Linked DNA regions of Homo sapiens. The protein of the gene in region 1 interacts with the protein of each later gene in a pairwise test. Each region holds a gene or a part of one and is shown on either strand. Other genes may lie near its edges.

What was found.
Region 2: the proteins of TAC1 (region 1) and ARHGEF40 interact in a two-hybrid assay, tested with the Homo sapiens proteins (one large-scale study listed by IntAct).

The regions. Positions count from the first base shown.
Region 1 is NC_000007.14:97,730,595-97,735,051, forward strand, and holds the start of TAC1 (protachykinin-1 isoform beta precursor), read left to right. Parts: upstream 1-1,491; 5' UTR 1,492-1,601; intron 1,602-2,009; 5' UTR 2,010-2,018; coding exon 2,019-2,141; intron 2,142-3,128; coding exon 3,129-3,225; intron 3,226-3,653; coding exon 3,654-3,698; intron 3,699-4,231; coding exon 4,232-4,255; intron 4,256-4,457. UniProt on the Homo sapiens protein: Tachykinins are active peptides which excite neurons, evoke behavioral responses, are potent vasodilators and secretagogues, and contract (directly or indirectly) many smooth muscles.
Region 2 is NC_000014.9:21,073,084-21,076,892, forward strand, and holds part of ARHGEF40 (rho guanine nucleotide exchange factor 40), read left to right. Parts: coding exon 1-159; intron 160-848; coding exon 849-2,097; intron 2,098-2,248; coding exon 2,249-2,416; intron 2,417-2,539; exon of another isoform or gene 2,540-2,561; coding exon 2,562-2,682; intron 2,683-3,276; coding exon 3,277-3,373; intron 3,374-3,452; exon of another isoform or gene 3,453-3,479; coding exon 3,480-3,560; intron 3,561-3,690; coding exon 3,691-3,807; intron 3,808-3,809. UniProt on the Homo sapiens protein: May act as a guanine nucleotide exchange factor (GEF).

The DNA.
Region 1 (4,457 bases):
TGGGATAATGGCGTGGATATGTTTTTATTTTTTTTAATTCCTACCTTTATACAGACATGCTGAAATATTTACAGTTGAAATGATTAACTGTCTGGGATTTTTTTCAAAATAATCTCAGTGCAGAGGAAACTGGAAGGGTTGTAGATGAAACTTGGAAGTGGATGTTTCTCTCTACTTTTGGATATGCTTATAATTTTCCATATAAAAGTTCTGAAAACGGAAAATAAAATGCTCACATTGTGAGGCTAAGGCCAAAAGAAATCAGAGATGCATGAGAATTTCCAAATTCAGGATTATTTAAGAACAACATAGAGAAAAAAATACTTCTGGTTTGAGTTGCAAAAATTTATTTCTTTTATGCAATATACTAAAAAATCATAATTAATTGAAAAATATAATACTTCATATGTAAAGGGGAGAAAACTACTCCACCAAAGATGTCACATCTTTTAATTCATTTGGAGATCAAAGAAATGTGTCTGCCAGGCAACCAAGGGCTCATGGAAAGGTGTGGTTTCTGTACAAATGCTATTTGTCTAATATTTTGTGCTGTTAATGACTGTCCCATTAGCATCTTCACTACACTTACTTTCATAGAAAGGAGAAACATGATTTATAGAGCCCTTTAGTGACAAGGGTGAGGATCCTACACACTATGTTGCTGGTTTCCTAGTCTTCAGCAAGAAAGTGTAGGAGAGAAGCAAAAAACGTCCTGTTCAACCCCTGCTCCTGGATGTGGCAAGGAAGAGGAGTTACCCGGCTTGAAACAAAAGAAATCCTAAGTCTGACACACAATGTCATGTTTAAATTCCCCTTTCTCCAAAATGTAAAATAAATCTGCTTCCATCTTCTAAAATACTATGGGACTAAACATCCTTTTGTTATGCTAAGGAAAAGCCAGTATTCGCGTTGATTTAGAAGAGGGATGTTCTGGTTATAGAACGATGCTGTGTCTCAGAAACACTTAAATACTATTAAGCTAGAAATAGAAGGGAAAATAATGCTTCCCCGCATCTCCCCTCAAGTGTAGTCCTCTTTTTTTAGCCTGATTTCCGACGAAATGTCTGAATGCCTACAGTTATTTGGCCATCCTGAAAAGTGCAACTTATCCTGACGTCTCGAGGGACGGAAAAGTTACCGAAGTCCAAGGAATGAGTCACTTTGCTCAAATTTGATGAGTAATATCAGGTGTCATGAAACCCAGTTTCGAAGGAGAGGGGAGGGGGCGTCAGATCTGCAGACGGAAGCAGGCCGCTCCGGATTGGATGGCGAGACCTCGATTTTCCTAAAATTGCGTCATTTAGAACCCAATTGGGTCCAGATGTTATGGGCATCGACGAGTTACCGTCTCGGAAACTCTCAATCACGCAAGCGAAAGGAGAGGAGGCGGCTAATTAAATATTGAGCAGAAAGTCGCGTGGGGAGAATGTCACGTGGGTCTGGAGGCTCAAGGAGGCTGGGATAAATACCGCAAGGCACTGAGCAGGCGAAAGAGCGCGCTCGGACCTCCTTCCCGGCGGCAGCTACCGAGAGTGCGGAGCGACCAGCGTGCGCTCGGAGGAACCAGAGAAACTCAGCACCCCGCGGGACTGTCCGTCGCAGTAAGTGCCCGCGCGGTGCTGGCCGCGGCTGCCCGGGTCACCCCGCCCCGCATCTGTCCGAGGTGGCCGCGCTGGGGGCGCCGCTGCGGCGAGGGACAGTGGGGAGACTGGCTTCCCAAACGCCAACGCCCCTCTTTGTCTTCCACCTGCAGAGTTTCCTGGTTTGAAGGTGTGGGTTGGTGGGTTAGGGGGCTGGGGGAGTTGGGATTCAGGGAGAAGAGGGTTGGAGAATCTTTGGGACGCGATTCTCTCGCCTAACCGGTACAGGTGAGACTTCAGTCCTTATGTTTTTGATCTTGGTTCATCCGTTGTGGGGCAGAAAATTCTGTTGCTTTAACTCTTGGATAACCACCCCTAATAGATACATTATTTCTCTCTTTGGTGTCTTCTCCTCCTACCCCTTCCCAGAAATCCAACATGAAAATCCTCGTGGCCTTGGCAGTCTTTTTTCTTGTCTCCACTCAGCTGTTTGCAGAAGAAATAGGAGCCAATGATGATCTGAATTACTGGTCCGACTGGTACGACAGCGACCAGATCAAGGTGAGGCCCCTTCCCAGGACGGCCCGCACCCTTCTTCCTGGGCTCGGGAGCTGTCACCTTCCCACGCAACAGCACCCTAGTTAACGTGGCACGCACCGCCACCACGGAAAGAGGCAGCGGTTGCGTGCGAGAGGATGGAAAGGGGCACTATTTCCCGGGTTCCCCACGGGATTTTGTGCCCACGATTCAAGTTTCTTCCCGAGGGCTGCACCGTCCGGCCCAGGAACTCCCTGCAGTAGGGATGCCCTCCCGGATGAGCCCGAGATCCTCACAAGGCGGGAAATCTCGTAAGATTTCATCCCCCAGGACCTGGGATTTCGGGGGCTCCGGTCCAGCTGCACTGCCCTAGCGTCTGGGCACGGGCAGAGGAGGGCGCCTGGGTCGCGGGCAGCAGCGGGCACACGCGCGAGCTGCAGGGGGATTGGAGGGCCGGAGGCTGGAGGGAAGTTAATTTCCTGCCTTCACGTTTGTTTTGCGGACCTGAGGATGTAGCTTGAAGTCTCCCTTTAGAAACTCGTAGGCTACAGGCGCTGGGGAGCGCGCCTCGGAAAAACGGTGAAAGTCGTCTGTAAAGCGTTGTCACCCTTCCCCACCGGAGCCCCAGCCCCAGATCCCACACACCTGTGTGCATTTAGGGCGGTGAGGACTCTACAAAGCCGGCACCGAGACAAGACAAAGTCAGGTGGCGGCGCAGCAGATGAGGGAAGGTCCCCGGGCTGGGAGGAAAGAGCGGAAAGCGCTCGAAGCTTGAAGACGCCGAGCCAGCTGCTAACTCGCCCTGGCAGGCTTGCGGGGGGCGGGACGCGAGTTCGGCGGGGAGGGGCGCAGAGAGGCAGCGCCTCGGGAGGGACCCCGCTCAGCCCGAGCGTGGGGAAGGCCGCCTCCCCACGCCTCGGGGCCGGAGTACAGCGGGGGGAAGGGCTCGGGTTGCTGGGTGCCTCGCTCTGGTTGCCTTACACGCCCTTTGTCCGTGCTTTTGTCTCCCAGGAGGAACTGCCGGAGCCCTTTGAGCATCTTCTGCAGAGAATCGCCCGGAGACCCAAGCCTCAGCAGTTCTTTGGATTAATGGGCAAACGGGATGCTGGTGAGATAGGCGACCGTCCCTAGGTGTCTTGGGCAGCCCGCCCTGTCTGCTCACTCCTTCCTGGAGTACCCCAGGGTCTCTCGCTCTGAATAGAGATTTCCACTCCAAGAGGGGTGTAATTCCCCAGGCGCGACATTGGCCCACACCGCACTAAGGCACGCACGGGCCCGCGGGGGGAGGGAAAGATCTGGTTCGCATGCCTCACTGTATTCGAGTGAAGCGCTCCCTTGACTAAAGATCCAAACTGACAAAGGGAAGGCACGGGCCTCCAGGGGTAGTACTGCGGATGATCCAAGTGCATGTGGAAGAGGATTTTATAGCATTCCCTGAGGTGAGAGTACATTTGTCTTGGGATAGAAATATCGTTTCCTTGAATTCATCGCACGGTCAGTGGAACATGTAGTTAATGACAATTCGTCTCTTGTCAGATTCCTCAATTGAAAAACAAGTGGCCCTGTTAAAGGCTCTTTATGGTAAACATTCCTATAAATCTTTATTTTACTATTGTGAAAGCACATGTAGGAAAGTGAAATAAAATCTTTTATGGGCTGAAATACAAGATCTGGGTCATGCCTGTTTAATAAAGAGATGGATTTGCGCACTCTCTCTCGGTTTCTCTCTCTCTCTGTCACTCTCTCTGTCTCTCTCTCTCTGTCACTCTCTCTCAGTCTCTCTCTCTCTCTTTCTCTCTCTCTCTCAGTGGGTGGCCAGCCTTGAAGGTGGGATGTGTTACAGTCTTATAGTTAATAAGAGGCCTCAGAAGTCTCATAGTCCTAGGTTTGAATCCCATAGAAGGCACTTAATAAAAATTCCATTTGTTTGTTTAAATATTTAGTTTTTATGATTAATAATTTGTTTAGCATTTATGGTTCTGCTTTATTCCTCAGGATAATATATAGATAGAAAATGTTACATATTTTGAGAATCAAATTATTTTATAAAAGATATAATGTAGCATCTTTAAAAACAAATCTATATGTGTTTGCTAATTTTATCTTTCTTCTAGGACATGGCCAGATCTCTCACAAAAGTAAGTTCAAAATTATTTTGACATTTATCAAATTTAAATGTAAAATTATATTGAATTTCACTTTATTTATCTTACCTTATTTTCTGTCATGACTCTAGGGCTTAATATGTTTAATGAAGACAATATAAGAATGGGGGAGATTCATATTACATCCAGAATATGGTTGTTTAGACATATTGTACTTAGCAAAGAGATGCATTAT
Region 2 (3,809 bases), on another chromosome or scaffold:
GCCGCCCTGTATCCACCCTTTGAGGCAACAGCCCCCACCCTGTTGGGCCAGGTGTTCCAGGTGGTGGAGAGGACTTATCGGGAGGACGCACTGAGGTACACGCTGGACTTCCTGGTACCAGCCAAGCACCTGCTTGCCAAGGTCCAGCAGGAAGCCTGTGTGAGTGGCCGTGCATCACTATTCTGCCTTCCCCAAGATCCACTGCCACACTCTACAGACTAGCCAGGCTGACTAATGCCCCCACTAACCTAGAGATACAGCCTCCCTTGAAACCGATCTCTCCAGAATCACTTAAGCTTCATTCTCTGACCTCTCACAAACTTTGACCTTCACAGGCACTGACCATTCAGATGCTAACACACACACACACACACACATTCATCTTCCCCAAATTCATCTTGACCCCAATACTGACCCCCAAAGACCCTAACTCTCCAGACCCAATTCCAGACATCTTCTCCCCCTCATATGAATTTCTCAAGACACTAACTCCCCCGTACATTAGTCAACAGAGATCATTCATTTCTACAGATATAAAGACTCCTAAGAGTCTTTAGCTTCTCCAAGACAATGGCATCTGCTGACCATGTCTTGGTAACGATTCAGTTCTTACCCTCCCACACATGGAACTAGCTTCCTGAAGAATCTTCCTACTACTGGGAGACCGATCAGTCCCAATCCCTTCCTCTCTGCCACCTGAATACCCCAAATCTCCCCTCCTGCTCTCCTGAGAGTATAACCTTCCAGGCATAAGGCTGGTCCTGCCTAGGGTGGGCCCATTCTAACTGCCCTCTCCTGCTGGTTTCTTCAGCAGAGGCCTGAGTGCAGCCTCCCACCTCTCTCCCCAGGCCCAATACAGTGGATTCCTCTTCTTCCATGAGGGGTGGCCGCTCTGCCTGCATGAACAGGTGGTGGTGCAGCTAGCAGCCCTACCCTGGCAACTGCTGCGCCCAGGAGACTTCTATCTGCAGGTGGTGCCCTCAGCTGCCCAAGCACCCCGACTAGCACTCAAGTGTCTGGCCCCTGGGGGTGGGCGGGTGCAGGAGGTTCCTGTGCCCAATGAGGCTTGTGCCTACCTATTCACACCTGAGTGGCTACAAGGCATCAACAAGGACCGGCCAACAGGTCGCCTCAGTACCTGCCTACTGTCTGCGCCCTCTGGGATTCAGCGGCTGCCCTGGGCTGAGCTCATCTGTCCACGATTTGTGCACAAAGAGGGCCTCATGGTTGGACATCAGCCAAGTACACTGCCCCCAGAACTGCCCTCTGGACCTCCAGGGCTTCCCAGCCCTCCACTTCCTGAGGAGGCGCTGGGTACCCGGAGTCCTGGGGATGGGCACAATGCCCCTGTGGAAGGACCTGAGGGCGAGTATGTGGAGCTGTTAGAGGTGACGCTGCCCGTGAGGGGGAGCCCAACAGATGCTGAAGGCTCCCCAGGCCTCTCCAGAGTCCGGACGGTACCCACCCGCAAGGGCGCTGGAGGGAAGGGCCGCCACCGGAGACACCGGGCGTGGATGCACCAGAAGGGCCTGGGGCCTCGGGGCCAGGATGGAGCACGCCCACCCGGCGAGGGGAGCAGCACCGGAGCCTCCCCTGAGTCTCCCCCAGGAGCTGAGGCTGTCCCAGAGGCAGCAGTCTTGGAGGTGTCTGAGCCCCCAGCAGAGGCTGTGGGAGAAGCCTCCGGATCTTGCCCCCTGAGGCCAGGGGAGCTTAGAGGAGGAGGAGGAGGAGGCCAGGGGGCTGAAGGACCACCTGGTACCCCTCGGAGAACAGGCAAAGGAAACAGAAGAAAGAAGCGAGCTGCAGGTCGAGGGGCTCTTAGCCGAGGAGGGGACAGTGCCCCACTGAGCCCTGGGGACAAGGAAGATGCCAGCCACCAAGAAGCCCTTGGCAATCTGCCCTCACCAAGTGAGCACAAGCTTCCAGAATGCCACCTGGTTAAGGAGGAATATGAAGGCTCAGGGAAGCCAGAATCTGAGCCAAAAGAGCTCAAAACAGCAGGCGAGAAAGAGCCTCAGCTCTCTGAAGCCTGTGGGCCTACAGAAGAGGGGGCCGGAGAGAGAGAGCTGGAGGGGCCAGGCCTGCTGTGTATGGCAGGTGAGATGACACGGAGTGAGGCTCATGGGGCAAGGGCCAAAGCAGGTCGGGCCTATGGGAGGGGGCAGGAGGAGGAGCAGGGTTAGGCTGGGAGCAGAACAACCAGAACCATCTTAACTTCAGTCCCATGTTTCTGTCTGTGTCTGTGCAGGACACACAGGCCCAGAAGGCCCCCTGTCTGACACTCCAACACCTCCGCTGGAGACTGTGCAGGAAGGAAAAGGGGACAACATTCCAGAAGAGGCCCTTGCAGTCTCCGTCTCTGATCACCCTGATGTAGCTTGGGACTTGATGGCATCTGGATTCCTCATCCTGACGGGTCAGTGGGCATCAGTGGGTGAAGGGAAACAGGACTGGGAAAGAGAAGCAATTGGGTGGGCTTGGGGACTGGGGGAGGCAGGGTGGAAAGGAGGTAGGCATGGACTGCTCCCAGCCAGGACAGCCTGGCCATTTTGTGTCTTCAGGAGGGGTGGACCAGAGTGGGCGAGCTCTGCTGACCATTACCCCACCGTGCCCTCCTGAGGAGCCCCCACCCTCCCGAGACACGCTGAACACAACTCTTCATTACCTCCACTCACTGCTCAGGTAACCGAGGCCCAGTCCTGGCACCCTGGACACTAACCTCCTGATTCATGAGGACCCTCACCTCCTTCTTCTCAGGACACTGACCTTCTGACCTCTAAGGACACCTACTTCTTCAACCTTCAGACTTCAAGCCATTGACCTTTGGCCTTACTTACCCTGACCTCCAGCTTCATATCTTCACTGATCTTCAAAAGCAACACTGTTGACTTTCACTCTCTTCCAACCCTACCAAGATCATCAGGACATTGGTTCACTGATTCAACAAACATTTATTGAGCACTGAGTACCTATTAGGCACCATACTACAGGCTGATATTGAATGCACGCCATTTCAGAACAGAATTCTTAATTTTCCAGACCTTAATCCCTTGACCTAGTAGCCATATGAATATAGACCCCTGACTGCTAGGTGACTTCCTCTTGTACACACACCCCAGAATTTGGCCCTTTGCCCATTTCTTCCCAAATGTACCGGCAACTAATTTCTCCTCAGGACTATTAACTAAAAACAGACCCCGTATGTCTGCCTTGCCTTATCTGCTATCCCCCAAAACACACACACAGCAGCCTCCTTGGCTCTTCCTGCTCCCGCAGGCCTGATCTACAGACACTGGGGCTGTCCGTCCTGCTGGACCTTCGTCAGGCACCTCCACTGCCTCCAGCACTCATTCCTGCCTTGAGCCAACTTCAGGTAACCACCCCTCAAACAGGCAGTTCCCCTGGATCCTAACTCTTCACCAGTGGCCAGTCCAGGACACCCGATTGCCCAGTTTAGGGTTATTCTTTTCTGCCCTTAGGACTCAGGAGATCCTCCCCTTGTTCAGCGGCTGCTGATTCTCATTCATGATGACCTTCCAACTGAACTCTGTGGATTTCAGGTTTGAGCCCTTCATTCCCATCTAGTTTCCCATCAGTAGTGGGGAGAGGAGAAGAGGCTGGCTGGAGCCCCAGGCTGGTTTCTGAGTCCTTGGGTGCCCAGGAAGAAACCCCCTGCCTTACCCTCTACAGGGTGCTGAGGTGCTGTCAGAGAATGATCTGAAAAGAGTGGCCAAGCCAGAGGAGCTGCAGTGGGAGTTAGGAGGTCACAGGGACCCCTCTCCCAGTCACTGGGTAGAGATACACCAGGT